3 linked regions of the Homo sapiens genome follow. The protein of the gene in region 3 purifies or fractionates together with the protein of the main gene of each other region. This does not show direct contact. Each region holds a gene or a part of one and is shown on either strand. Other genes may lie near its edges. The genes, in order: ANO4, PPP4R1 and EHBP1L1.

Evidence for each region.
Region 1: the proteins of EHBP1L1 (region 3) and ANO4 purify together in Homo sapiens (co-immunoprecipitation; one large-scale study listed by IntAct). This does not show direct contact.
Region 2: the proteins of EHBP1L1 (region 3) and PPP4R1 fractionate together in Homo sapiens (co-fractionation; one large-scale study listed by BioGRID). This does not show direct contact.

Annotation. Positions count from the first base shown.
Region 1 is NC_000012.12:100,790,232-100,800,421, forward strand, and holds the start of ANO4 (anoctamin-4), read left to right. Parts: upstream 1-4,544; 5' UTR 4,545-4,796; intron 4,797-10,190. UniProt on the Homo sapiens protein: Has calcium-dependent phospholipid scramblase activity; scrambles phosphatidylserine, phosphatidylcholine and galactosylceramide. Does not exhibit calcium-activated chloride channel (CaCC) activity.
Region 2 is NC_000018.10:9,608,378-9,618,723, reverse strand, and holds the start of PPP4R1 (serine/threonine-protein phosphatase 4 regulatory subunit 1), read left to right. Parts: upstream 1-4,164; 5' UTR 4,165-4,239; coding exon 4,240-4,246; intron 4,247-4,449; exon of another isoform or gene 4,450-4,453; coding exon 4,454-4,498; exon of another isoform or gene 4,499-6,267; intron 6,268-10,346. UniProt on the Homo sapiens protein: Regulatory subunit of serine/threonine-protein phosphatase 4. May play a role in regulation of cell division in renal glomeruli. The PPP4C-PPP4R1 PP4 complex may play a role in dephosphorylation and regulation of HDAC3.
Region 3 is NC_000011.10:65,572,351-65,580,535, forward strand, and holds the start of EHBP1L1 (EH domain-binding protein 1-like protein 1), read left to right. Parts: upstream 1-3,702; 5' UTR 3,703-3,952; coding exon 3,953-4,056; intron 4,057-5,856; exon of another isoform or gene 5,857-5,928; intron 5,929-6,727; coding exon 6,728-6,785; coding exon of another isoform or gene 6,786-6,814; intron 6,815-6,990; coding exon 6,991-7,086; intron 7,087-7,585; coding exon 7,586-7,639; exon of another isoform or gene 7,640-7,730; coding exon 7,731-7,909; exon of another isoform or gene 7,910-7,986; coding exon 7,987-8,129; exon of another isoform or gene 8,130-8,168; intron 8,169-8,185. Other genes in the region: FAM89B (leucine repeat adapter protein 25), read left to right, coding at 320-610, 1,013-1,291. UniProt on the Homo sapiens protein: May act as Rab effector protein and play a role in vesicle trafficking.

The sequences.
Region 1 (10,190 bases), on a different chromosome or scaffold from region 3:
TCAGGTTGCAGAGGGCTTTGAATGTCAGGTGCAGAAGTGGGTGTATTTGGCCTGATCATCCCAGACCTGTTACAAGGGGATGGCATGATTATATTTGTTGTATTTTAGAAAGAAAATTCTAATGGCTAAGGTAGGTCAGATTGGAACCAAGGAGAGTTTAGAAACCATTATAATAGTTTAAAAGAAAGAATTGGTTGCAGCCCCTAATTCTGTGTTGAGAAGAAGTTTAGAGGTAACATTGGTAAGACTTAAGTACTGATTGGATGTGGAGACACTCCAGTTAGATTTTAAATGCACACGCTAATTTTCTAACATTGGTGCACACACACATACTTCTTATTTTGGCTTCACCAGACTCAGCCTAATTCTCCCTGACTATTTAAGTCAGCCACTGATTTATTTTTCTATCTTCAGAAAAAAAAAAAGAAAAAATTATAGGTCTGTGATCTTATGGATTCTTTCTGTATGATTTGATTTTGATGATCCCATAGGATTCTTCAGGCTAAGGAATGCTGACTGTGCAAACAAATTTTTGAAGACTTGGATGCTCTCATTATATTTATGTGCTGCAGATACCTACTATTTGGAATGGTTGTTGCTATTTGCAAACCCGCCTACTAAGCACTTTGGGGAAATTATTAGCAGCCATTGACCTCTGATAGGGAAACATTAGCAGTTCAACCTATCCTCTCTCCATTTCAGGTCTCCTGCTGAATGCTGAAGGATAATTAGGATTTTAGAATTTAGTGAGGGACCATACTTTAATGTGTATGTCAGTCCCATACTTTTCTAGAATATTCTTTCCCTCTATAGTATTATTCTAGTAAGTAAGGACTATTCCTCTTGGCCTTAAAATGTAATTCAAGGCTGGGTGTGGTGGTTCATGCCTGTAATCCTAGCACTTTGGGAGGCTGAGGCAGGCGGATTGCCTGAGCTCAGGAGTTCGAGACTAGCCTGGGCAACACGGTGAAACCCTGTCTCTACTACAATACAGAAAATTAGCCGGGTGTGGTGGCATGCAGCTGTGGTCCCATTGGGTATGGTGGCATGCACCTGTGGTCCCAGTTACTTGGGAGGCTGAGGCAGGAGAATTGCTTAAACCCGGGAGGCAGAGGTTGCAGTGAGCCGAGATCGCACCACTGCACTCCAGGCTGGATGGCAGAGCGAGACTCTGTCTCCAAAAAACAACAACAACAACAAAAATGGTAATTATAGGGTCAGAGTTGAGAAACAAAAATCAACAAATACAAATCATTTTCTCTTTAATTTATAAGCATTAGGAATTCATTTTTTGTTGCATAAAAGATTTACATTTAATCTCTGAGGTAAAAGAAGTTTCGGCTTCAACTTGGACTTGTGTCATTCCCACCTCATCCAAATTCATGTAACATGGTGGGAAGGGTCCTCTATTGTCTCATACATTTAGTCTAAAAGCATTCTTGGGGGACCCCCTCCTATGTTCAAATCAGTGTCTCCATATAAAAGGAAGCTCTGAGGCTGTTCCAGTTGTTCCTACATTGTCTTTGCCACTTGGGTGAGCGTTTTCAGCCTCCCTGAGCCCCAGGTGCCCCAGTGTACATAATACTTACACTATGGGTGCTGCAAAGGCCTGGAAAGATAGGTGGAGCCATTGGAGTCAACTCTGGCACATGGTGGGGTTTAGTTATTTTAGACACTGGCTTTCAGAAGTTAGATGGAAGAGACACAGACTTTTCCATATGCAGATTATAACTTAGTTTTCAAAACCATTAATTGGCAGAAAGTTATTTAAAAGTCCCAATTCTCATACCTCCATTAAAATATTCTGATGTCAAAAATGGAATTATGTGGCCGCCTACCCTCTCGGTGGTCTGGAAAATAGTCATATTTTCACTTTTTCTCCTTAGGCTAGTTACAGAACACAGAACCCACTTCCCATGAACTGTGTCTACCCTGGTGTTGAAAGACTGAGCTTGAAGAATACTTGTCTTTTAGCCTTTAGAAAGCTCTGTCAACAAGCTTCTGTGAAACAAAGTTCCTGAAAAAGCTATCTTATTTCTTTTTAAATAAGTGGCAGATACAGGTACATAATTCAGTTTATCTTGTAGTCAGGAAAAAGGCATTAAATCGTGCTGTTGTAGAATTTTAGCCACATTCTTTTGGCCATTCAAATGGCCATCGATCCAACAAATACTGATTGAGAACCTATTATATGTTAAGTACTACACCAGTTCAACACCAGTGAACAAGACACAATCGCTGATATCATCCCAAGTTTAATTGACTTGTATAAACAATCTGTACATTACAAAAATTAATGTTGTTGCTATCTGAAATGGGAGGCATTTTCTGTCATTTTTTTAGTAGAGAGGAATAAAGAGACCGAACTTTAAAAATTAATGGCGTTTGAGTTAATAACTGGAATACCTATTTTTATTGATCAATTGTCATATAGATGTGCAGTTACTTAATCCACTAGATAATTTGTATTTCTGCAGTATTTTCCATTTCATGCATCATTATAATGCTGTGTATTCAAGGTATGAACCCGTTTCATCAACAGTATTAATCTCAATTCATTTAGGAGCTTTAAATAATATTCCCTTATTAAGTATATTCTTGATATGCTGCCCATGCTTTTACAGTGTCAGAAGCCGTTAATGCAGATAAAAACAAACATTCAGTTAAAGAACCTTCTCATATATTAATTCGATTTCAGAAATTATTTGTGCATTTATATTTCCTGAATGGCTTCGGTTATGACAAACATCTAACTAGGCTAATTCAGAGCTTTGAGGCTAAAGTCCAGCCTCATGGATTGGTTTAATCTGAAGAACATTAAAATAGTAGAACATTTTCTGTCTTGGCAAGAATCATAGTGTTGAAATTTCAAGAAGAAGATTTAAATTTGTCCATGAGACTGTAAACTTCTTGAAGGCAAGGACTCATCTCTGTAGCCCTGATGCATAATTGATGTTCTTCAAATGTTTGCTGATTTGAGTTGAACTGAGGAGAATAACAAAACAGCATTTGAGAATCAAAGTCTCCCAGGTTTTCCTTATATAATTTACAAGGACTTCCCTGGCAAACTATCCTTTCTTCTTCGTTTAAAAAATTTCACTTTATTATGTTCATCTTTGATGTGGAACATTTTTTATGGCCTTCTGCTGTGACTCATTTTGGTGCTGAGTTATCTGCTTCCTTGGAGCTCAGCCCTTCCTTTTAAGCTGTGGTATTCAGGCTCCCCAAAGTCAGCTTGCCTACGGGTAGAGATCACAGCAAAATGTGCAAATGGTATTCCAACTTCTAGGTAAAAACAGACAACTAAAATTAAAAACTCTACATCATGTAAGTCACCTGGAAAAAAAAAACAGAAAACAAAACCCGAGGGCATTTGTATATTCCTGTTAACTCTTGACTGACTAAAGGGAGTTATCTTTTCTGCAGTGATAAAAAGGTGGCCCAAGACAATCTCCCCATCTTACAAAAAGTTCTGAAGTTTTACTGTGGAGTCCAATTAAACTGGCATTTAACTTCAGAAACTACATCCCTATATAATGTAATCATCACAACCAAATACAAATTAATTAATATATATGGACAAAGTTTATAAGTTCAATATTAGAATAGGGGAAAAGGGAAGTAGGAAAAGTTTAGAGTCCTCCACGCATCCTTCATTTATCACCAAGAGATTTGCTCCTTTGCTCCTTCTGTTAGTGTAAGTCAGAATTTCTCAATTTTCAGTGTGTTTATGAATTGTTATTATTGTTTATCCCAAACACATATTTTGTCTTATAGGTGATTTAAGAGCTCTAAAAGGGACATGTTAACTATCTTCAGAAGCTCACCTCTAACAATATTTCTATACCTATATTATACAAGAAAACTAATGAAGATTGACAGTCAAATTCCTGGAGAGACCTTTGACCCTTCTCTGTCTTAAATTTTTCACTTCTGAAATAGAAAGCCGGGTCACTGGTCATCTTATCCTGCACTTTGGGCATAAAGAAGCTTAGGTCCAAAGCGCCATTACTGTACTCATGATGACCCCTTGAAGGCACATCAGTAGGGCTGTCTGGACTGTGACATGCCATCAGACATCATTTAGGGGACTTCAAGTCTGGCTTCTTGCAGAGATGCTGTGGGATGCCTCAAAAACTTCCTGCATGGCTAGTGTAACTATGGGGCTTTAGATCTTTGTTAAATACAAGCAAACATTAACAGCAGCAGTGGAGAGGATAAGTTGCCAATCCTCCCAAATTTCTTTTCCAGGCAGGGGGTTGTCCTGCCGCTCTCAGAACTGGCTGTCATCTGCTGCTCTCTTGTCACACTGACACGGCCCCCTGGCTGGGCTGATTGGTCGCTGGCAATAACTGATATGGAATACTGATGTTCTCTCCGGCAGTTCCTTCCACTCTAAAGAGACTCCTTTTCATCCCTCTTCTCGCCTTTCCTAGCCCAGCCTAGTGCCCACCCTCCCCCGACCATGCCTCCCCTGCACCTGGGGAGGGGGAGGACCAGTCCTGGGCGTGATGCTCTGAGACGGTGGTGAAATCCACCAGGCTGCTTTCACTCCGGCTCGCTCTCCGGAGAGTCCTGTTCCAGACTTCTCAGGGTTTTTACAGCACAAACAACTGCATACGGCCCGAGGGGAGGCTGAAAAGGACTTGTGTGTGGTGGTTTTATTGCCTGTCATCACTTTGCTGGCCTCCTCCCGACTGGAGCCTGGAGGTTCACAGTGGATTTCTTTCTGCCGAAGACACCAAGGCACTGAGGAAGGATCCCTTCTCCTTCTGTTGACTCTTTCTATTTTTATGGTAAGTGCTTACGTTGAATGAGCTGCTCTGTTGCTGCAGTGAACTGAACCGTTCGTTCCCCCTCTTCCCAGCTAAGCTTAGTGACCTTCCTTCTGCATTTCCTCTGTTTTCATGGATCTTGTCTGGGATGATCCAGCTTCAAAAATGCCAGGGGTCATTTGCCTGGAGTGTTTGTCTTTTTATCTTTTTTCCATAAACGTGAGCTCTTCTGCTGTGATACGAATATAAGTGCTCTGTCTTTGTCCTTGAAGCAGCAGCCGGGGAAATGTGTTCACGATGGTAAACTGCAGCAGCGTGCAGGGAATCTGTGGAGGATGACTGACAAATTTGGGCAGGATGAATCCTCAGTGTGCCAGGGGCACTCACTCAGGATCAGAAGGGCCGGGGGTGACCTGCCCACATAGCAAACTCTTCCATCTTTGTGGATAAAGATGAGCACACACGTGTGAGTTATGTTGAGTCTGCTGTGGGCAGCTGTGTTTTCTGCACCTGCCCGTGTGGGTCTGGGATGACCCTATATCTTGTGGGGTTTACAACTTGGGCAGGAACATTCTCAGCAGGAGGAATCCTGAGCTGGCAGACGGAGTAGACTGCATGACCTCATTGCTTCTTTCCCTTCTGAGTCTCAGGGTACCCAGTTCTGCAAACCATATTTTACAGGCTCTTCAGAGAGTGGTAGGGCAGTGATGACAGGAACATTTTTGAGTTGACAACATAGTTTTGTCCTCCTGCTAGGAGATAAAATACTTTGAGGTTATTAGAATGGTTAGACTTTTCTAGGAGAACATAAGCAGGTTTCTGACGAAGACTATGGATGTGGCAGATTGTTTATTCCAGGGACATTACTCTTACAATAGTGCTCTAATTTTTCACCTGGTCTCCTGAGGTTTGCTGCAAAGAGCATCACAACTTCAAGTCTATTACTGGCAGCTTCTTGACGCCCAAAGGAAACCAAGAACATTTTATTAGTTTCACTCCTGTGCGTTGCAGGAGTCTCTCTTAACAGGGATTTTTTTTTTTTTTTTTTGGTAGCAGGTGTGTCGAACTATTTTGGTCAAAGCATCATTCCAAAGAATAGCTTCGCAGTTGTAATTCTATTTAGTTATTTTCAAGTCTTGGACCGGAGGTGGGTTATCTTATTTGTGTAGGTTTTTCCATTCTGGTCCATTTCACTCTAGAGAGGGTTCTTGCCAAATGTAATTCAGTCTCTGATTCATAAGGTACTGAACTAATACAATGTGATTTTTTGTGATAAGTGAGGGGAGAGAATGTGGGGTGAAATTTCCAGTCTCTCCTCCTGCTCTTTGGGAGTTTGGAATGTAAAGTTCCCTAACTGCTTGCTCATTTTCACTACTTTTATGTCCCCTGTTCATGTGGATTTTTCTTGAAATAGTGGTGATGACATCAGACATATGCCTTTACCTTCTTCTCTGGGTCCAAAGTAGATGCGTTTGTTGTTGTTCTGTTTTTGTTTGTTTTTTATTTCAGTGAAGGGTTCCTTGCATTTGTAAAAGCATACGTTTAAATAAAAAACAAGAATTTGTAGATGTTTACATGTTAGCCCTGTTCAAGAGTAAAACCAGCACAGAGGTTAACAGCAAAAAAAAAAAAAATTCAAAACAATTTTTAAAATATTATCAGCATTGCTTGGCTTAGCTGTTCTAATATCCACTCTTCCCTACACTCGATTGTGGTTCGCGGCAATACTGTATTGTAATTTGACTGTCAGACTGCTCTGCTTCCTCTTTAATTCTTTAATGTTTAGCTGTTTACTTTCATCCTTAATGGTGTGTTCTTACTTTGCTTAATCTTTTTTTCTCTTTTTCTAATTGAAAGGATGTTATATAGTGCCTGGTAACTCAACTGAGGATACTCATTAAGATGGAAAGTGTTAGAATCAGCTTGGGTGTCATGGAAATAGACTCAGTATTTCTCACTGCAGGCAATTTCAGAATCATTTAGAACATATTTCATTTTAATTAGTAGCAACTTTAGCCTTGAGAAAAAACATTATTTAGGTTTCCTTTATTTTGCTAAACAGATTGTGTACCTATGCAATCAGAATTGTATATATATGTGCAATTGTTTATATATATGTGTGTGTATATATATATATATACACACATATACAAGCGTGTACACAAATGTACTGTTGTTTGTACTGTGTCAATTGTATATACTTAAAAAATTGTTGTAGCATGCCCATTTGGAGAACAGAAGGAAAATTCCTCAGATATTGCTTTAACTGGCTTTTTTTTTTTTTTGGTAAGGATTTCCCCACTTCCTAGACCCCACTTCCAGATAATGCCTTTAAGAATTTCTTTGAATTGGGAGAGTGCATTTTTCAGCATTTCCTTGTCTCACAGCATGGTGTCATGTTAATTCCTTTGCAGGGTCTCTGAAAGCAGCATAGAAAACTACTGCAGGAAAAATTGATAAAAGCTGTGCTGAGCGGAGCCTGTAGCCTCTTGGTGTGATGAAGTCACTGCAACATTTTGTGTGTATTTATTTTGCTGCTATGCCTTGCAACTGATTTTGCTTGCAGACTTAGCAAATTGAAGTTATTTAAAATGGGTCTGGAAACACCTAGATTGGTGTAGATGCAGTTGATGCAGTTATTCTTTTTTTTTTTACACTCTTTAATTACAACTATCATCAAAACTGTGCTTTCACTGTTTCTTTTGGTGGTGGTTTAATTTGAAACTTGCAGCTTAAATTATAAACCAAGTCTCCCTTTTAAAGTCCTCTTGCCTTCTGCTTTCTCTCTTCTTCACTTTTGCCATTTTATATATGTGAACATGCCTACATGTACACAGACAAACTCAGACAGTGAAAAATGTACAACAATTAATGAAGAGATGATTACAGCTTTTCTTTTAGTAACCAAACTCCAAATGTTGAAACCATAATCATGTAACTGAGGGAAGAAATTGTTTCTGTTAGTATAAATATAACCTCATACTTCTGCAGGCATTCTTATCATTGAAACTGTTTTCCATAGTTGATTACCAGGACCAGAAATAGAATTGATTTTGCATTTTAATTAATGACATTCTGGATCTGTCTAGGTTGGACTGCCCTCAAACCTTGATATGTTTACTGTCTAAAAGGTCTTTGTGTTAAGAGGGGGAGTTTATGGGTGTTATAAAGTAAAATCATTTGATTATGTGATACAGCTTTTCTTTGGTAACTGAATGAACCATATCATTAGAATGTTGGCTGAATTTTTATGTTGCTTTTCCCAATATTATTTAGCCAATATAATCCCTTTTACCATCTCTTTGAGCCCCTTTTACAGAGTACAAAGAGTTATGTGCGACTCCCACATGAGGCTTCTTAGAGGGAAGACTGTTCTTCAGCAGAGATTCAGAACTACTTCTAGCACCAGCTCTGGTAATCTACTTGGAAAGGAACTTGCAATTCAATTGGCAACTCAGGCAGATTGTATAAAATAGGAGAAATGCTTCATGAGCTGTGTTGAATACTGTATTTTTGATCTGTGCCTCCCTACTAAATTCATTTAGGACTGTCTTTACTAGATCAGTTTTGCAGGGAAAAAAACATGTCCTCAGTAGCATAATAATCTATCCAGACTGTCATAAATGTTTATATTGCAAGTTATACTTCTTAGGAGTTGGAGGGAGATGGCAGAATTTTGGAGGAGAACCAAATCACAGCCCCAAAATAATGCAAGACGAAAGGGGAACATTCTTCCTATGTTTAGCATTTAATTCTCCAGTCAGGCTGTTTGCTCTTAAGTCTGAAGAGCGAAGAAATGTAAAAACACATAATGACAGGTTTTGTGGGCTTTTTCTCTAATAGAAATCTTTAACCCTTAATTAGGCATCTGCTGACTGACCTTTTGGTGTGTGTGAGCCAGCAGCCATTCTTATAGAAAGCAGACATAATGTAATACAGTAGGAATTCAGTTACTTACATCTTTCCTGTTGGTCCCCCACAGGGGACCTCCTCTGAGTGTCAGAGAGGGAGTGAGTGTCTGGAGACCATCAGAGACCACAGCCAGTCACAGAGAGATATCTTCAAGCCCCTTGGATTCCAGTTCAGCCCCCACCACTAACTGGCTGTGTGACTCAAATTCTGTATCTGCTACATGAAGCTTGGACCAGATAATCCCAGAGGACTGTAACCCAGCCATTAAAAATTGTGAAGTATTAATTCACTTCTATTTGCTACTAGATGAACGATTATTTCTAAGACAATTGACCCATATTAGACATTCCTGGAGGGAGTAGGCTGTAACTTCCTTTGACCCTGCAAAGCCCCCAGAACTGTGACAGTGACGTGAGCATCAGTGTTACTCAGAAAAGTGTGATCATGGTACCCTTCATGAACAGGGCGAATATGTATATGATGACTATCTGCTTATCCTGGCACATTTTGGAAAGTCTCTTGTGATTATCAAAAAGGACCTTGGCCAGGGGCGGTGGCCCATGCCTGTAAATCCCAGCACTTTGGTAGGCCGAGGTGGGCAGATCATGAGGTCAAGAGATCGAGACCATCCTGGCCAACATGGTGAAACTCCATCTTACGAAAAATACAAAAATTAGCTGGGCATGGTGGGGCGCGCCTGTAATCCCAGCTACTCAGGAGGCTGAGGTAAGAGAATCACTTGAACCCAGGAGGCGGAGGTTGCAGTGAGCCGAGATTGCGCCATTGCACTCCAGCCTGGCAACAGAGCAAGACTCCGTCTCAAAAAAAACCAAAAGGAACCTTAAAGAGCAATTTACCTAATCCTCTCATTCCACAGAAGTTAAGGAAGTGATATGACTTCCCCAAGGCTGGAGACTCACATAGCACCTGGGCCGGATGACTTTAGTGTAAGGTGCATTCATTTACTCAGAACCCTGCTCCATTCCCAGTGTGGGGCCCCTTCCATGATACACAGCTGACACTGTGCCATTCATTGTTCACAAATCTGCTTTGTGGCATCTGTCTCACTGGTGTCCATTATTTCTGGGTTCATTTCATGCAGATTACGTGGCTGTACCAGTCAGAGTGAGTCATATCAAGCAAATGTTTATGGTAATTTGTTTATGCTTGTGTGGAAATGCATTTTTATGTTGAAATTCTGCTTTTCCTATAAACATTTAAAGAATTTTACAAAAACTATGCATAGTTTTTCCCCTTTGCTTAAACTATTTAAATGATCATTGATTTCTATGTAGAGGGGGTGATGTTTGTGAATTAATTCCTTCACCATTCACTCATTTACCTGTTACTTACTGAGCACCTATTGTGTCCACCCTACTGCCAAGCAGCAGAGATCTAGTGGTGAGACAGCCAGACACATCCACTCCTCTTGAGGAGTTCAGAGTCTACTTATACTTCATGGAGTTGGTTGTCTTTTCATTGTCAGCCAGTGTTCTATTTACT
Region 2 (10,346 bases), on a different chromosome or scaffold from region 3:
CCTCCCGAGTAGCTGGGACTACAGGTGCCCGCCACCATGCCTGGCTAATTTTTTTGTATTTTTAGTAGAGACTGGGTTTCACTGTTAGCCAGGATAGTCTCGATCCCCTGACCTTGTGATCTGCCTGCCTCAGCCTCCCAAAGTGGTGGGATTACAGGCGTGAGCCACTGCGTCTGTCCTTACCTTTATACAATGTATAGAAATGTATAGGAGGCTTTAGGTAAGAGACTGGCAATTAGTTTTTTTAAATTGTTCCTTTTTTTTTTTGAGACAGACTCTCACTCTGTGTCCCGGACTGGAGTGCAGTGGCATGATCTTGGCTCACTGCAACCTCTGCCTCCCCGGTTCAAGTGATTCTCCTGCCTCAGCCTCCCTAGTAGCTGGGATTACAGGCATGTGCCACCATGCCCAGCTAATTTTTTGTATTTTTAGTAGAGACAGGGTTTCGTCATGTTAGCCAGGCTGGTCTCGAACTCCCAACGCCAGGTGATCTGCCCACCTCAGCCACCCAAAGTGCTGGGATTACAGGCGTGAGCCACCACACATGGCCTAAAAATTGTTCTTCTTATTTGAAAATGAGTTTATGAGGGACATTTTGTCAATCTGGCTTCAAAAAAGATGAATGAAATGAATGGTAAAAATTTGTTTAACGTGCTCGTTTCAGCAGCACATGCACTAAAATTAGACTGATACAGAGAAGATTAGCATGGCCCCTGTGCAAAGATGACACGCAAATTTCATTTTAAAAAAGCAAATAAATATTTGTTTAAAAATCATTTTTAATCATGTAAGTATTTCTCCATTTTTCAGACTGTTTCTCTTTTCATCATTTAAAACAATAAATAATAGGGCTGTCCTTATATACTTTCAGTTTCAGGAATGATAATTCTGAAGAAAAAAGTGAATGGTTCAATCACCGATACAAAAATTAACAAACATGATAGTGGCAAGCAACATCAGGTGGGTTTTGTTTATTAGCGATGTTTTCGCCATTTTTTTTTTATGTTTGTTTGTGGTTGAAAAGCCAGACACATTAATTTCCAAGGCTCATTGGCTGCTAAGAAAAATTGTCACTGTGGCCAGGCACAGTGGCTCATGCCTATAACCCCAGCACTTTGGGAGGCCAAGGCGGGCAGATCACCTGAGCCCAGGAGTTTGAGATCAGCCTGGGCAACATGGCAAAACCCCGTCTCTACGAAAAAATACCAAAATTAGCTGGGTGTGGTGGCGCCCACCTGTAGTCCCAACTACTCAGGGGGCTAAGGTGGGAGGACTGCCAGAGCCTAGGAGGTGGAGGTTGCAGTGAGCTGAGACTGCACCACTGCACTCCAGCCTGGGTGACACAGCAAGAGCCTGTCTCAAAAACAAACAAACAAAAACCCTTTCCTTATCATTTGGAAGAGGACTTATTCTTAAAAATGCAGGCCTTAGTACTTACATAGTTGGATGATGCTTTTAGGAAAATGACTTGGGACACTCCCCCTATATTTTACACATTTCAGTGGCAGAACAGGATAACAATTCAGACTTCCTGTGTGTCTGACCACGGACAACACACAGCTCTGCCATCCACGAGCTGCATTGTAAGTGAAGCTGGGTTAAAGGTATGTAGAATAATGATTGCTATTATTTGTTTAAATATTATTTCTTAGAAGAAGGGGACAGAGTGCAGTTTGTAAACACTGGTTTAAAAACTCCTTTCTTTTAGAAAGGAGAGAAAGTGAAATGTAAAAAACACATATTTGTGCTGAACCATGAATGATACCGTCACTGAAATATCTAAAAACCATATTGCTTAAAGGCACTTCTTGCAATGTGTAATTCAGCTAAGATGATAATCAAATGCATAGCTCTTGAATACAGAAAAATGATACAGATCCTCCTCCTTTGCTGCCCTTCCCACAGAATACTGAGATAAAACTTACTGAGGCCTAGCTACCAAAGGCAGAATTAGTTGTTCCATATCCTAGGCTAGCATTTGGTACATAGTCCCTATTTTATCATGATTACTGAGAACTGTTAAGTCTAACTCAACTGTGTAGATCAAGACAGTTTTGTCTTAGTGCATCCAGCGGCTGAAGCACAGTTGGCACGCTGTAGATTTTGTGTTGTTGCGGTGAGACCACCAGTTAGAATAAAGAGCTGATTTGGGCCGGGTTTGGTGGCTCACACCTGTAATCCTGGTGCTTTGGGAGACCAAGGCCAGAGGATTGCTTGAGGCCAGGAGTTCAAGACCCACCTGGGCAACACAGTAGAACCACGTCCCTAAAAAATTTTAAAAATAAATTGGCCAGGTGGAGTGGCCTGTGCCTTTAGTTCCAGTTACTTGGGAGGCTGAGATGGGAGGATCTCTTGAGGCCAGGAGTTCGAGGTTACAGTGAGTCATGATTGTGCCACTGCACTCCAGCCTGGGCTACGTAAGGCAAGACTGGCTCTAAAAAAAATTTGCTTTTTAATGAAAAAAAAAAAAAGAGCTGATTTGGCTCTTTCTTCCCCCATTTACCCAGAATTGCTAAAGTGGTAGATACTGACAAGGTATCTTAGCAGGGCAGAAGTCTCATGGTTTGAGTCAGTTGGGACCAATTGCTGTTGATGTGAATTTCTAACTCCTTTGTCATTCTGAGTGTGTCAGCTGAATTCACATAAGGGCATTCACCAAGGGAGGAAGAGAAAGGCCTTTAGTTTTAATTATTTTATAGTTGAGAAAATTAGACACATACTCGGGGTTACGGGGTCTATTCTGATTTTTATTACTCCTAGAAATTTCATACAGATTATAATCTGTCTATCTTGTTAGTAATATCTGACTGAATTTTTTGGAATAGCTATGTGTAGAACCCATTTTATTACACAGATTTAGGAATCTCAGAGGATCTGATTCCTTAGTCTCTTAAATCTTCAGTGGCATTAAATGCCAACACATTGTCCTTGGTCAAGACTACAACGTAGAAAGGAACAAGCTAATTAACTACTTAGAATTCCCTCTCCTAAGAGACCACATCGCCAAAGTGGCACCATGACACAGCTTGGTGTTTTGTTGGTCACTTTAGGAGAACACCATTTTGGAGGCCTTGGGTGGAGCTGGAGATAGAGCCATGGAGGTAGAATCGTGTCGGAAAACCTGGGTTTAGCCCCATTTTGTACTTGGGCGTTTGAGCTAATCGCTTAAGTCACGTAAAACAACAAGACTAATAAAGTCTGGGATACAGACTTTAACACCTCAAGTGCTGCCAAAAGTATTTAGAAGACAAAGCGAATCATAGGCACCCTTCACCGAGCACCTCCTAGACATCAAGAACCATGCTAGGTTCCCTACATTCTTCATTTAATGCCAATAACCCCACGAGGCAGTTATCACCTTCATTCTACAAATGGGCCCCACTCCTACCAATTAACTGGCTGAATCAGGATCTGACCCCGGGCCTGCCAACGCTCCCGCTGGTGGATTGCCCGCCTTGTCAGCTCGAGTTGGCAGGACGTGGGAGTAAAAACCCGGCGCCCCAGCCTTCACCGTGCTGCACGAGGAAGCTGGCTAGGCAGGCATGACTTTGTCAGTCAACCATCCCGCAGCCGGGCCCTGGGCTTTGTTAGCAGCCACTTGGCGAGGGCCCCGGGCGGGTGGGGAGGCGGCGCTTCCTCCAAGAGGAGGTGGGACCCCGGCCCCGACGACCTCGGAGCCGCCCCCGGCCCCGGATCGCCGACGACGTACGTGCAGGCCTGGGGATGGGGCGCTGGCTGCGAGCGGCGCGCCCGCCGAGATGGCTGCGGCTGGCAGGGCGGTGGGCGAGGCCGGTGACCCAATAAAGCGGCCGGGCCGCGGGAGGCCCCGCCCGGCCGGGTTCCGGCACTCGCCGCAGGGTCCCGGCCGGCGGCAGGTTGCGCGCCCCCGTCCGCAGCGCTCGGCGTGAGGGCGGCTCGGGAGGAGGGTGTGAGCGCGCGTCGCCGGGCCGGGACCCGGCAAGCAGCGGGAAAGGCGGGAGGCGGGAGCGCCGGTCGCCCGGGAGCCGCGCGGAGGGGCAGGCGGGGCGGGGCGGGGCGCGGCCGGGGGCCCGGGCGGCCGGGAGCCGCGCCGCCCGCGGCAGGCCCGGGCCCTCGGCCCGCCCCGCGCGCGCGCCCCCGCCAGCCCGGCCCTCCTCCTCCCCGCCGCCCCTCCCGCGCGCGTCCACCGGCTCCCCGGCTCGCGCCGCTCCATGTAGCCCCGGCTCCCCGGGCGGCCGCGGAGGAGGGGGCGACCACAAGATGGCGGGTACGTGGCCCCCTGTTCTCCGGGCGGCGGCGGCTCCTCGAGCCCACCCGCCCTCCGCCGCAGCCCTGAGTGGCTGCCGGGCCGGGGCCGGCGTGGGGTCCCGGCGCGGGAAGGCGCCCCCGGGGCGGGGGGGAGGCGGGCGGGGGGGGGGCGTCGCGCCGGGCCCCGGGGCGCTGACCGGGCCTTTCTTCTCTCCCCTCGGCGCAGACCTCTCGCTGCTTCAGGAGGACCTGCAGGAGGACGCAGACGGATGTGAGTGGCCCGGCCTCGCGGTGGCCTGGCAGTCCGCGGGGAGCGGCCGGGGAGGGCGGGCGGCGGCGAGGCCTGGGCCGGGCCCTGGCTGGCTGAGGGGACGGTGGGCGAGGGCGGCCCCAGGCGGGCTGGGGTGGCGATCGGGGGGGAAAATCTCGCGTCCGTGAGGAAACGGCGCGCCCAGGTTCCGCTGGGGGAGGGAGACGCCCGGAGTAACGCCCAAGTTCGCTTTCCGCCCTTCGCTCTCTTCTCCCGGCGCCCCCGAATCGCCTGCGGGCTCAGCAGTGGCGCGGCTGTTTTGGAAGGAGAAGCGGTGGGGCAGGATTTGAAGTGGGGTTTGGGTGTGTTTCTGCCCCTGGTGTCCCCTTCCCCCGTCACTCTAGGAAGGAAGAGGCTCGCGCGGGAGGTGTGTTTCCTTAGAGTCGCTCTTCCAGGAGCGCCCGGGGGTCAGCCTGGGCCCCGGCTAGCCGTCTGGGCTCCCCGACCCGGTTTTGGATTGTTTGAGGATGACATACCTGTCATTTTACTTTGGCTGGTAGCAGTTTTCAGATGCTCCCGATTTGATTAGTGGATTACGAGAAGGTTAGAAGGTGTGGCCTCCGCAGGAATTACTAGGTTTGGAGAGCATATTTCTTTAATGCGGATGTTCAGAAATCACCCAGCCCTCCTTCAGTGTTAACAGTGCAGCTTTCCTTTGAGGTACTGAAGTTTTTAAAGAGTTGACGCTTTTATTTTTAAAAAGACAAAGTTTCTGACATTTCCTGATGGCGACGGAATTGATATTTAGAAAGGAATTTTTCGTCTTATATGTACTTTTCTAAGCCTCAGAAAATAATTTGGGTCACGATAGAAAAGACAAAAGAGTTAAGCAGGTTTGTATTGAAAGAAGTGACAAATTGCAGTTAACTTAAAATAGTTTCTATTCTTGCTAATCTTCCAAAATAGCGACCCATCAAAAAATCAATAGGTTTTGAGATGCATTTTAAAAATGCAGAGTGTGCAAAATATATAAGCGAAGATCATGGGATACATAAGGGACCAAGAAATTGTTCTGAGTTGAGATGATAACCATAGTAGGATTGTGGTCTGTTTAGTGGAAAGCCTACCGGATGCTGAGATTGACTGTCTAGTACCTGTATAAGTAATTTCAGAGATGGCTGCAGTTTGAAATTACTCTTTTAAATACTCTGTAGTTAATCCTTAGCATTGTCTAATGTGGTTCCCTTACTCAGAGTAAACTTAATTTTTAGATTCCTGGTTGTTTTGAGTAAAGTAAGGGGGATTTACTATTTAGATGGATTATCTGAAACGAGTAATTTATCTTTAAAGTAAATGAACCACATCCAAACTTTTGCTAAGTCTGTGTTTTTAGTGAGGTGGCTCAAAACAGCTCTCTTAAAGGGAGCAGTACTCATGTAGTGAAGGGCAGCTTTAACATTTTATTTAATGTTTACCTTAAGCCACTTATCTGCCTAATAGTAAGTTTGAGATATTATTTAAGGCATCTGTTGATTTCAGATCTCTTGCCAGGTTAGGATTGGAGAAATGGCCCTGATTATGTTACCTCGAGGAGGGCTTTTTATATTTATGTTCGACTTCGTAAATAGAAGATTCATTTATTCAGCAAGTATTTATGACTGGAGCAAAAACTTCTCACTCCTGAAGGATGAAATGCAGTCTCAGTTTCTTCCTTAGCCCCCAAGAAGCACAGTGTAGAGGGGAAGGCATACCTGTGAAAAATTCAACCATGAGTTTCAACACTCTGCCAGGTACTGGGGATGGAGCTTTGAGAAAGATGGGCACAACCCATGCCCTCTAGTGGTTTACAAGCAGTTTTGAATCTAGGTGTACAGTACAGTATTACAGTTACCACTGGAGCCAGGCTGCTCTGTTTGTCTTAGCAGTGTCTTTTTGGGCAGACTTGGGCAACTCACTTAACCTCCCTATGCCTCAGTTTTGTCATTTGTAAGTAGGCATAAGAAATATTACCTACTTCATAGAGTTGTTCAAGGCTGTACATGAGTTAGTGCCTCTGAAGCACTTGGAACAATTCCTGGTAAACAGCGATGATTATGATTATGTTTGCTGTTATGAGAAAAGAGCAAGGGAAGCTTAAAAGAAGAGCAGAGAAGGAAACACTGATGTTGAACCTTACAGAATGAAGGTACTTAAAGATGCTGCCAATGCTCGCAACTAAATTTTTTTTTTTTTTGAGATGGAGTTTCACTCTTGTTGCCCAGGCTGGAGTGCAAAATGGCGCGATCTCGGCTCACCGCAACCTCTGCCTCCCGGGTTCAAGTGATTCTCCTGCCTCAGCCTCCCAAGTAACTGGGATTACAGGCGTGTGCCACCACGCCTGGCTAATTTTGTACTTTTAGTAGAGACGGGGTTTCTCCATGTTGATCAGGCTGGTCTCGAACTCCCGACCTCAGGTGATCCACCTGCCTTGGCCTCCCAAAGTGCTGGGATTACAGGCGTGAGCCACTGCGCCCGGCTGCAACTAACTTTTTAAAGATTCTGTTTCCTGTGCATTTTAATTTAGGATAAAACAGACATTGAAGGCACAATAGTTATTTGCATATTCATAATTTGGTTGAAGGCTTTGTTAGAGTAATTGCTTATTTTTCTCAGTTACTAAAGTTTTTACAGGTGATACCTTTACCCAGAATATTCAGGAACAAAGGACTTTTGGACATATGGCCAGTTGAAGGACCACTTCCCATCTCTTGTGAAGGGAGAAAGAATGAGGGGGAACACTGGGCCATGGTGCCTCCTTAGAGAGCAAGATGGTTGGTAAAGGACTGAGACAGCTGTCACATCCTGGAGAAGCTGGAGAAGGTAGAGGACCCAAAGGTAGAGGAACGGAGCTTGGGCTGCCCTTATAACACGGTTGTTATCTCGTGAGCCTGAGTTTCTCTGTCTATGGTAAAACTCCAGAGTATGGAGCCCAACCTCCAGAGTAGTTGTAAACAAGTCCTACTACTTCAGCCAAGCTAGGTGTAAGTTGGCCCTTGGGATGGGAAGAAATTGTTTTCTGGTCAAGCTCTAGAATCTTGGTTGACCTTCCTAAATGCAGAACCTGGACTATGAGGGAAGAGACAGTAAGTTCTGTTGTGCAGATGATCTAGGAAAGGACCTAGCTGGAGTCTAGGACTTGAAAGAGGGGCATTGCCAGACATTGCTAAGAGTCTCAGGTCTTTCGATTTGATTTGTTTTAATCCCGTCTCTGTACAGAGGCACAGAGTCGGGGAAAAGGTTGGTCAAAGACTGACTTGACTGATAACCTTTGGAGGAAAAAAAATCCTAATGAGGGAAAAATGGATGGTATTTGTGTGTGTGTGTGTGTGTGTGTGTGTGTACACATAATTTCATTGAAGGAGTTTCATTAGAACTTAAACTTTTATCAAGTAACTTATAAAGGTAAGTAAATGAAATCATTATCAGGTACTCTTAAATTTAGGAGAATAGGCTGGGTGCAGTGGCTCATGCCTGTAATCCCAGCACTTTGGGAGGCCGAGGTGGGCGGATCACGAGGTCAGGAGATCGAGACCATCCTGGCCAACATGGTGAAATGTCTACTGAAATACAAAAAAAAATTAACTGGGCGTGGTGGCGTGCACCTGTAGTCGCAGCTGCTCAGGAGGCTGAGGCAGGGGAGTTGCTTGAACCCAGGAGGTAGAGGTTGCAGTGAGCCAAGATTGTGCTACTGCACTCCAGCCTGGCGACAGAGCAAGACTCCGTCTCAAAAAAAAAAAGTTTAGGAGAATAATGCAATAAAAACCATATGTATTTAAGTTTAAAAGTGAAACTTTCAGTACTGTATCATGAAATACTTTGAATTTCAAATTGAAAGCAAACCAGTGACTCCATTTGAACATAGGTTATCTCAGCAGATTTCAGAGTTGGGTAAACCCTTTTTAACTTTTTATATTTAATTATGTTCCTTAAATAATGGGAGACAATACAAAATTGTAGATGTTTAGAAAAAATTATTTCAGATTTCTGTTTTAGTTTCCAAAGATGCAATTTTGATTCACATTTAAGTTGGTAGATTCCTAAAATGAAATGAGACTAAGATACGGTTAAGATTTGATGAGCCAATGCTTGTAAAAATAATTTCATTGAAGGAGTTTCATTAGAACTTAAGCTTTTATCAAAGTAATATGTTGAAGAATGTTATTTTTAAAGAATGGCTATGTAACGCTTAGTTTACAGTGCCTTTCATACACAGGTTATTCTTCACAGCAGTCCTGTGATGTGTAGGCTGTGGTATTCTAATACTAATAAGTAAGTTGACTAATGCCCAAAGGGACTAAAGAAACAAAACTCCTAAGTTTAGACGGAATTTTAAGCTAGGCCTTCTGATTCTAAATATCATATTTTGAATATTTTCTTAAATGGCCCAGTTTAAAATATTGATCAACCCAAACTTGTACAGGCAATTTCTTTGAACTCGTTCTTAAAGTACCCTTGAAAATTAATCTGGGATGCTGCATGTGGTTTAGTTTACACCTGGAGAATGATAGAGAGGATGGAGCTTGGGTATAAGACAGCTTATTTAGTCGTTAACTTTTATCTCAGCTGTAACTAAGTATGACGTTGAAAAGTTTTTGAAGCTATGTTATTGAGTATGCCATACAACAGACTTTTTTCATATTTAAGTTTTGGAATCCTTTTACATTATGCTGTTTTTCGGGTTTAAGGGCGGTGTTGAAGTAGAGTGAAGGATGGGTCCAGAACTAACTGAGGGTAACCGCCTAGACCGCACTCTGTGCAGAATCTTCAGGCCTTCCTACCATGTTTCAAAACCAGTTCTGATAAGCTTAGAGTCCTTGCTTCCGGTGGGAGGTGAGGAGCAAAATATTGGGGCTGTATCTGGTAGTGGCCAGGGAATCATTCAGAAACCTTTGGAAGGTGCCCTTGAACGTGAATCATATTTAGGAGTATTGTTAAATAGGGATTTGGGAGGGTGAGTCGTGAGACCTGGTAGCCTGTTTTGACTGCTGCCAACAAGCCTGGATGGAGAGATCTTTATTTAGAGATAATATCATTGATATCTTAGAAAAGAGTGCTTTTAAAATGGTTTCAGTGGTACCCACATGTGTGTTGGATCAATTAATGATACCTCTGCTAACAACTTCCCACATAAAATTGAAAGAGAGAGAGAGAGAGACAGAGAGAAAAACCCCTTTGTAAATATGCTTGGGCCTGTAGCTACACGATCCACTGCCCTCCCCCCTCCAAAAAATAAAAAACCAAGACACCTAAATGCATACTTTTTGTTTGTTCCTGCCTGTGAAAGATAAATAGACCTCAGGAGGTAAAGTTCAGAAGTCTGCTGCCACATTTGTTTGATCTCTGGTTTATTATTTCTGGTCCTTTTCTCTCAGTCTCCTCAAAACAATGAATGTATGTTTATTAAACTATTGTTACCTTGCTCCTATGTTTGTATTACATCTTTTTTTTATATTTTGGAGTAAAAGAATTTGAAAGTTCCTAAATTTGAATTAGAGTTGTGTTGTTGTTTTTAAATTGGAGCTGAGAATAAACCTAACTTAGTGTTTTGGGCAGAAGTCTGGATGGCACACCTATGGAATTTTGGCTGAGGAGGTATTCCCTCTAATTTCTATAAGAGGGTCTGGAACTTGCTCTGCTTTTAGCACAGATCTTTGAGCTGGTGACATCATCAATGCTGCTTCCTCCACATTCATTTCTTAACTCTCCTAACTTTTAAGTCATCTTAGCTTCTTATCTCCCTAGACTAAGGAGCAAACTTAACTTACTTTCTGGCCTTATTGATATGAATGTGGTTGGTATTTGAGCATCTATCATGCAGTCATTCTGGAAG
Region 3 (8,185 bases):
AAACCACGCCTGCCCCCTTCAGCCTTTTCCCCCCTCCGCCGCATTTTTCCATCTCCCCTTGAGTGAGTGGATGTCCCGTTGCCTTTTCTCAGCTTTGCGCGACGTGGTCCCACAACCGTTGCCTTTTTAAGAGAGGCCCGGCCCATCCAGAGGGGGTGGGGCAGAGGCGGAGTCTGAGGAGCTGGGGAAGGAACAAAGCGAGGCCTGCGGGCGGCGGCTGGGCTCCGGCGGGGCCGCGGGGTGCGGGGCCTGCGGGCGGCGGCCCGGGCGGAGCGTTGGAGGGAAGGAGGTGGCATCGCCGTCCGCGCCGGCCCCGGCCATGAACGGGCTGCCCTCGGCAGAGGCGCCGGGCGGGGCGGGCTGCGCTTTGGCCGGGCTCCCACCGCTGCCGCGCGGCCTCAGCGGCCTCCTTAATGCGAGCGGGGGCTCGTGGCGGGAGCTGGAGCGCGTCTACAGCCAGCGCAGCCGCATCCACGACGAGCTGAGCCGCGCCGCCCGCGCCCCGGACGGGCCCCGCCACGCCGCCGGCGCCGCCAACGCGGGACCCGCAGCCGGCCCGCGTCGTCCTGTCAACCTCGACTCAGCGCTGGCCGCGCTGCGCAAGGAGATGGTGAGTGGGTGGGCGCCGGGCCAGCTGGGCGGGGGGCTGACGCGGAGGAACGCAGGGGACTGGGACAGGCGGCCTGGGTCTCAGAGGACTTGCAGGCACCAGTTGGGTTGCAAGGGTTATGGTAACAATAATTAGTGATAGTTACCAATTATGGCAGTAGTTACCATATATTTTCAAATGTTTTGCTGACGTTACTTCATTTCATCCGGCTAAATGGATAACCCCATTTTTTGGGTGAGGGTCATGACTAAAGTTGCATAGCTTGCAGGTGGTGCCTGATGTCCACAAAAACTTCGTTTAGGAAGGTGCGGGGAAGATGGGCTGGGGCCCACTATTCCAGGGGGCGGGGCTGGGCTGGGGTGGCCTGGACCCCAACTCCAGCCCACCCTCAGTTGTCTGCAGGTGGGGCTGCGGCAGTTGGACATGTCCTTGTTGTGCCAGCTGTGGGGCCTGTACGAGTCAATCCAGGACTACAAACACCTGTGCCAAGACCTGAGCTTCTGCCAGGACCTGTCATCCTCCCTCCATTCGGACAGCTCCTACCCACCGGATGCGGGCCTGTCTGACGACGAGGAGCCTCCCGATGCCAGCCTGCCTCCTGACCCGCCACCCCTTACTGTGCCCCAGACGCACAATGCCCGTGACCAGTGGCTGCAGGATGCCTTCCACATCAGCCTCTGAAGGGCTGGGGGGCAGGGGGCATGCACCCATGCAAAAGGCTCAGAAACTCCCCCTCCGGCAAGCCCTCAGACTTCGGAGCCTGCGCCTTCCCCCCTACCGCCTCACCTCACAGGAGGGCCAGGCATGTATTCCTCAGAGGCGAAACTGCCAAACTCTTTCTCCTGTCTTGGGTTGGCTGGCACTGGGGCGGGCATCTAGGGTACAGCCTCTGCTCATGGCACTGGGCCTCCAGTTCTTCCACATGTGTGCACCCCCAGCTTGGCCAACCCTCAGCCTTGCGGTGGGGCCCGAAGCATCTTCCCTTCCGCTTGGCGTCTCTGGGATTGGGATGAGTGCCTGGCTCCCATCTCCTCCTCACCTTTTGTTGCTATCGGCAGCTGCTGGCTCAGGGGCATCCCACCTCCGGGCTCTGGGTTCCTCTGCCCTGGAAGGGCTCCAGGACCCGTCCCAATAACCACCCACGGCCAGGAGGGCCAAGGCCCCGTGCTGGATATTTAAATTTAGGGGCCGGTCTCCAGGGCGCGTAGATAAATAAATACACTCAGCGTCGTTGTGCTCTGCCTGGCTGGCTCTGGGGCGGGAAGACCGCGGTGTTTGTGGCAGGTGCGGCCCCGCGCTCTGCCAGCAGGTGGCGCCCGAGACCCCCTCCCCCCCCGCCCCGCGCCGAGTGAAGGCCCTGCCGTCCCGCCGGGGCGGGGCTGGGGGCGCTGCCTGCTGGCCGAGCCTGGCTCAGCCGCCGGGTGACTGCGGTCGAGTCACTTCCCCTCTCTCGCCCGCGACCTCCGAGTCCCCCGCTCCCTCCTCCCAGTTCGCTTCGGGCTTTCCCTGCCTGCCGGGAAGGAAGGAGAAGGAGCCGCCCACCTTGAGGAGGGAAACTTTCCACCCCGCGCGGGGCGGGGTTGAGGCGGCGCAGGAAATGGGTGGCCGGAGTCGCCGGAGCAAGGGGCCCCGGCGGGGGCGGGGGAGGCGCCTCCGGGAACGGCCTGGGACCTCACGCCCCGCGGGTGGGAGGGAGGGGTGGCAGAGGCCGAGGGGAGTGAAGTCGCGGCACCTCGGGCCTTCCCGGAGGCCAAGCATGAGACTCCGCGGCGGTGAAGTTTGATTGGGGTTCCAGGGACCCGTATTCCCCGCTCAGTCTGTGAAGACCGCCGGCTCTCCCCACAGCACTAGCGGTCTTTACAGTTATCTGTGGAAGGTTTCTTAGGAAACCGGGGACCCACACCGCTGGGACTGAGAACCAAACCCAGTTGTCAAGCCCACCGGAAGAAGCCAGCACGTTCGGAGACAGTGGGTACTCAGCCCCCTACACGCGCACACGACACCTCACAACCTCCTGAAAAGAGGTGAAGCCGCACACCGAGGTGTGCGGACGAACAGCACATCCCCGCGCCCTGCTGCAGCCATTTGCCTCCTGGAGATGCAGCCCAGATGGCAGTCCTGGCACTCAGACATCCCGTTAAACCAAGTAGCAGTCACGCACCGGGCTCCTGTCCATTTACACACCTTGCAGAGCAGCGGGAAGGAACAAACTGACCTATTGCCCCAGGGCAGCTGACACCTGCAGAGGCTCATTACCATGCAGGGCGGGTGGGTAGGCGATAAGGGCTCTAATCTAGGGGTTCACAGCTGCTAACGCTCCAGGCAGGCTTTCCTGGGGAGGGAGAGTAAACATACACAAAAATGACACGTTTTCCCCATCCATTATAGCGCATCCCATTTAATAAGGAGGCATGGCAAAATCAGCCAGGCTTTCTGCTAAATGCCTTCTGAGGTTCATCCTCTCAGGGATTCCCTAAAAGGCGGAACTACAATTATCCCCATTTAATAGACGTTGAAACTGAGGCTCAGAGTGTTAGCGCTTTGCCCAAAGTCACACTTGGTTGGAGGTCAGTTATGATTCTCCAGCTACTTGTCGGGGTTTGGGATTATCTTCCCCCTTGACAGCAGAGTCAGGTTCTGAGGTTGGGCCACCGAGGTTACTGACGCCTTCCTGCTCTGGTTAAGACGTGGGTGGCTGCACCTTGGAGTTGAGAGCTGGTCCTCGTCCACATTCACAGTATGACTCTGAGCAAGTCCCTTCCCCTTTCTGGGTCTCAGTTTTCCCAGCCGTTGAAAGGGGGCCAGTAGTACGTACCTCCCAGGGCTGCGGGCAGGAAGGAAGGCGGCCCGGGCAGCGCTCTCTAGGGTGGCACCAAGTTGCTGGTTGCCCTCTCTCCACGCAGCCTCTGCGCGCACCGAGCGGGCACTGCGGTCGGGCGACACCCCTTCCACGCCCCCCTCCCCCGCCCCCGCTCCCGCTCCCGGGTCGCGGCGCGAGGCCCCGGAAGCCGGGTCGCCCCGCCCCCGCGCTCCTGCCCCGGCCCCCGCCCCGCGCCGGAGCCCCGCCCGCCTTCCGACGGGGGTGCGGCTCCAGGAAACGGCGCGCTCCCAGCTCCGCGCTCGCCACCCGACGCGCCCCAGGCGACCCCGCAGACTCAGCCAGACCACCCTGCGGGCCCCAGCGGCGGCAGCGGAGAGCGCGGTCCCGGGTCGGAGCCTGGGACACCTCCGCACGGACGGGGCGGGCGGCGCGGACAGGCCATGGGGACCCGGGCCGGGCCAGCGGTGGCGGGCCAGCGGGAGCCCCGGGCCTGAGAAGTGGGCGGCGGGGTGGCGGGGGCCATGACCTCGGTGTGGAAGCGCCTGCAGCGCGTGGGCAAGCGGGCGGCCAAGTTCCAGTTCGTGGCCTGTTACCACGAGCTAGTGTTGGAGTGCACCAAGAAATGGTGAGTGGGAGGGAGGCGGGGGGGCTCCCCCGAACTTGCTGGGACCTCATCCGGCCCTTTGAGCCTGAGAGGACTCTGCCCCCCCAGCCCAATGACCAAATGGGCCCCCACCCCAGCTTGGGCCCTGGTTCCGTTCCCAGGCTCGGAGATTCAGAAGTGCCCTTGCAATTTGTGGGACCCCTGGAGTTGGGGGCGTGGGCAGCCTTCCCTGCGCGGGGGTCAGGACTTTCAGGCCTGAGGTTCTGCCTGTGTCCACTCCTTCCTCAGCTGCGGTCAGGGCTGGGGGAGGGAGGCCGCATGTCTTGTGCCAGAAAGGTGGTTCAGGGTGGCATTGGAAAAGGGATCAAGTTTTGAGGTCTGCAGGTGGCTAGGGCTGGGGCAGGAGCCTCCCTGACCTTACTTAGTCCAGCTAAGAACAGAGATGTTGCCCCCTCCTCCCCTGCCATCTTGTTGAGCCAGAAGAACCCCTCCAACTCCCGCCTCTTCAGCCAGAGTGCTGGGAGGCTGGAAACATCTCCACAATGTCCTTAAAAGGGGAAACTGAGTGCTGGGAGGATTGAGGAGGGAGGCGGGGAGCAGCTTAAAGGGGCCTGAGGACCTAGGAGGTTGTGGGTCCGGGAGGAGAGGGTTGCGGAGGGCAAGGTGGCAGGGTGAGGGGTGATTCACCAGAGGGTGCAGGCCCCAGCCTGGACTACCAACAGGTTCAGGGGCATCTCGTTCACATGCCGCCACCCATAGCTGCCCAGGCCCCTGCGTCACACCCTAAATATACGTGCTTGCTGGTGTCAGCTTCCCTTGGCTGGATTAGGGCACAGCTGTGGGGGCCTCACCCGCCAGGCGGGGCTAAATTTAGGCTCCCCAGGGGAAGGGCTGGGGCAGGAAGGGACCATGGGGTCCAGGGGGAGGGGAGTAAGCAGGAGGCTGGGGTCCCTTGGGCAGCTGCCATATCCTTGGCCTTGCCCACACTGGGCCTGCTAGAGGGCCATTCACATCTTTCAGCAGAGCCTGGGAGAGCTTGGGGGCTGGCACTTGAACTCTGGCCTCTGGCTCCTGCTCCAGCATCCTGCGGGAGGCCAGGGAAACACTGGGCACAGCAGGCTGAGGGTGCCGGCAGTGTCAACGCAGCTGAGTCACAGGCGGCTGTGGGTAGGGCCTCCTGGGCTGCTTAGCCTGGAGCCCAGGCCGGGAAGCTGCCCCTGCCCAGGTTGCAGCTTCCCAGGAGGGCGTGCCCAGCCTGAGTCAGGCTGCCCAGCCAAGCCCTGCCCTCCCTAGGCACCCCCTGTCCGCTTCCCCTTTCTGGGAAGGCCCCTTAGTTACCCTTGCTCTGCCATCGCTGGCAATTTGGGCTTGGGGAAGGGAACTTGGCTCTGGGTTGGAGGGCTCTAGGCTCAACCGTGTAAACTTGTTTGGCTCCAAACCTCTGTGGGCCTCAGCATCCTCAGGGTTAACAGAGAGGCACTTATCCTGGCTTGGCCTCAGACGAACAGTGAGCTGGGCAAACCCCAGCATCACGAGAGGGTGCAGGCATGGGGCTGGGTACAGGCAAGGCCAGTTCGCGTGCTGCCCTGGGCCGGATCGTCCCCTCAAGCATCACCCCTCCTGGGCAGCAGTTGAACATCTAACCCCAAGGGGCCCTCTGCCCCCAGGCCCAGCCATGAGTCCACTCAGTGCCTGGGAATGGGCCCTGCGCAGCCATCTCTGTCCTCTGGCTTTGCCTCTGCCTCTCCTCCATGTCTGACCTGGCATATGCTGTTCAGCTTAGATGTCACCCCCTGGAAGTCTTTTCTGATTGCCCTCCAGGCTCCACTGTCATCATCTTGCCGAAAGCTGATCCTCCTTGGGACCCCTGCGCCCAGCAAAGGGCTGGACATGGTGGGCGAGGGATGGCGGTGTTGGTTAATGACAGGCTGACCCTCTGCTGCTTCTCCGGCCTCACCCCCAACTCTCTGCCCCTCTCTCTGATGTCACCCTCCAGCCGCAGACCCTTGGACTTGCCATTCCCTCTTTCTCCAGATCCTCACACAGCCCATCCCCCTGCCACTCATCTCTGCCCAGACACCCAACCTCAAGGAGACCCCCAGGGGTTCCCTCACATCACCCTGGAGTTCGCTTGTTAATTTATTTTCCTTCTTGACTGGTAGTCTGCCCCCACCTCCATTGTCCTCACCGGAAAGGTCTTGTCTCTCTTTTGCCCTCCTCTGTCCCCAAAACTGGGCTGGGTTTATGGTGGGCGCTCCACAAACATCTTTGTGCGAAGGGACTTCTTTTATCCCTCGTCTTTGTCTCTCCCTGTGTTGGAGTCTGCGTGTGTGCACGATGCTCACATGTGCATCTGTGTCTGGCATCTCTTGCCAGGTCCTTGTGTTTCTGTGTGTCTTGGTCTCTGTATGTGCCTGTCCCTTTCTCACTTGCTGTCTTTCCTCATAGTCCCTGCCTGCCCACACTGTCTGGGCCTTTGCCCTTCTGCTCTGGCCCCACCCTACCTTAGCAGCTCCACCCTGCACCCTGTGGCCCCAGATAAGGGGCTGCCCAGGCCCTCTTCTGGAGGAGGGGGAGGTGGGCAGAAGGAAGACCCTGAGGGAGCTGGGGGAGGAGGAAGAGGAGATGGGGAGGCAGGTGAGCCTGACCAAGCAGCCTGCTCCCTTTCTCCCTCCCCTTCCCCCTCCCCCAGGCAGCCAGATAAGCTGGTGGTGGTATGGACCCGTCGGAACCGACGCATCTGCTCCAAGGTGGGGAAGGATGGCAACTGGGGATCCAGGTTAGGGATGGGGGCCGGTGGGAGGCTGATGGGGGCTGATGGGGGAGTGGAGTGAGGTTCAAGCACAGATCAGAATCCACAGAGGGGAGGGGAAGATGGTGTCAAGGTTGGTGATAGGGGGTGCAGGTGGGAGGGAAGAGTTAAGATGGGGGGAGGACTCAGATTGTCCCTTGTAGGCCCACAGCTGGCAGCCGGGCATCCAGAACCCATACCGGGGCACCGTGGTGTGGATGGTACCTGAGAATGTGGACATCTCTGTGACCCTCTACAGGGTGAGTCTCTAGCCCTCCAGCATGGATGGCAATTGCAACACAGGCAGTTGCAACAATTGCAACACAGGTCTCCTGGTAGGTTGTTCATCCAGATAGAAGAGGATGCGGGGGGTGAGGCCAAGAATTAGGGGGGCCTGCTCAGCATCACTGGCCCAGGAGGTCTCCTTGGAGGAGGCAGCATTTACCCAACACATGCAGCATGAGAGGCAGCTGGGACCAGAACTTGGGGTGCATCCCAGGAGGAGGTAGCAACCACCGCGTGCACCTGTAATCCCAGCTACTTGGGAGGCTGAGGCACGAGAATTGCTTGAACCTGGGAGGCAGAGGTTGCAGTGAGCCGAGATCGCACCCCTGCACTCCAGCCTCGACGACAGAGGAAGACTCCGTCTCAAAAAAAAAAAAAAAGCCACCACTACCAAGCACCTCCTGAGCCAGACAAGCTCTGCTCCCTTTGCTGCTGCCCCAACAGTCCTGTACTCACCAGCACCCTTCTTCCCAGGACCCCCACGTGGACCAGTATGAGGCCAAAGAGTGGACATTTATTATTGAAAATGTGAGTGTCTGGAGTGGGCTCAGGTCTGGAATCTTGGGGACCCTGGGACAGCACTGATGCCCCTTCTCCTGGTCTCTCCCCTGGCCCACAGGAGTCTAAGGGGCAGCGGAAGGTGCTGGCCACGGCCGAGGTGGACCTGGCCCGCCATGCAGGGCCCGTGCCTGTCCAAGTCCCAGTGAGGCTGCGGCTGAAGCCAAAGTCAGTGAAGGTGGTGCAGGCTGAGCTGAGCCTCACTCTTTCCGGGGTGCTGCTGCGGGAGGGCCGTGCCACGTGAGTGCCTACCTGCCCTCCTTGATCCTGGCCTGTGACCTCTGACTCCACCCTCACCTTTAACCTCTGCCTCCCAGGGACGATGACATGCAGAGTCTCGCAAGCCTCATGAGTGTGAAGCCTAGTGATGTGGGCAACTTGGATGACTTTGCTGAGAGTGATGAAGATGAGGCTCATGGCCCAGGAGCCCCGGAGGCCCGGGCTCGAGTCCCCCAGCCAGGTGGGCTCACAGCCTGCTGTGGATCGAGACTGCCAAGACCTGGGGAGGGAGGGTTA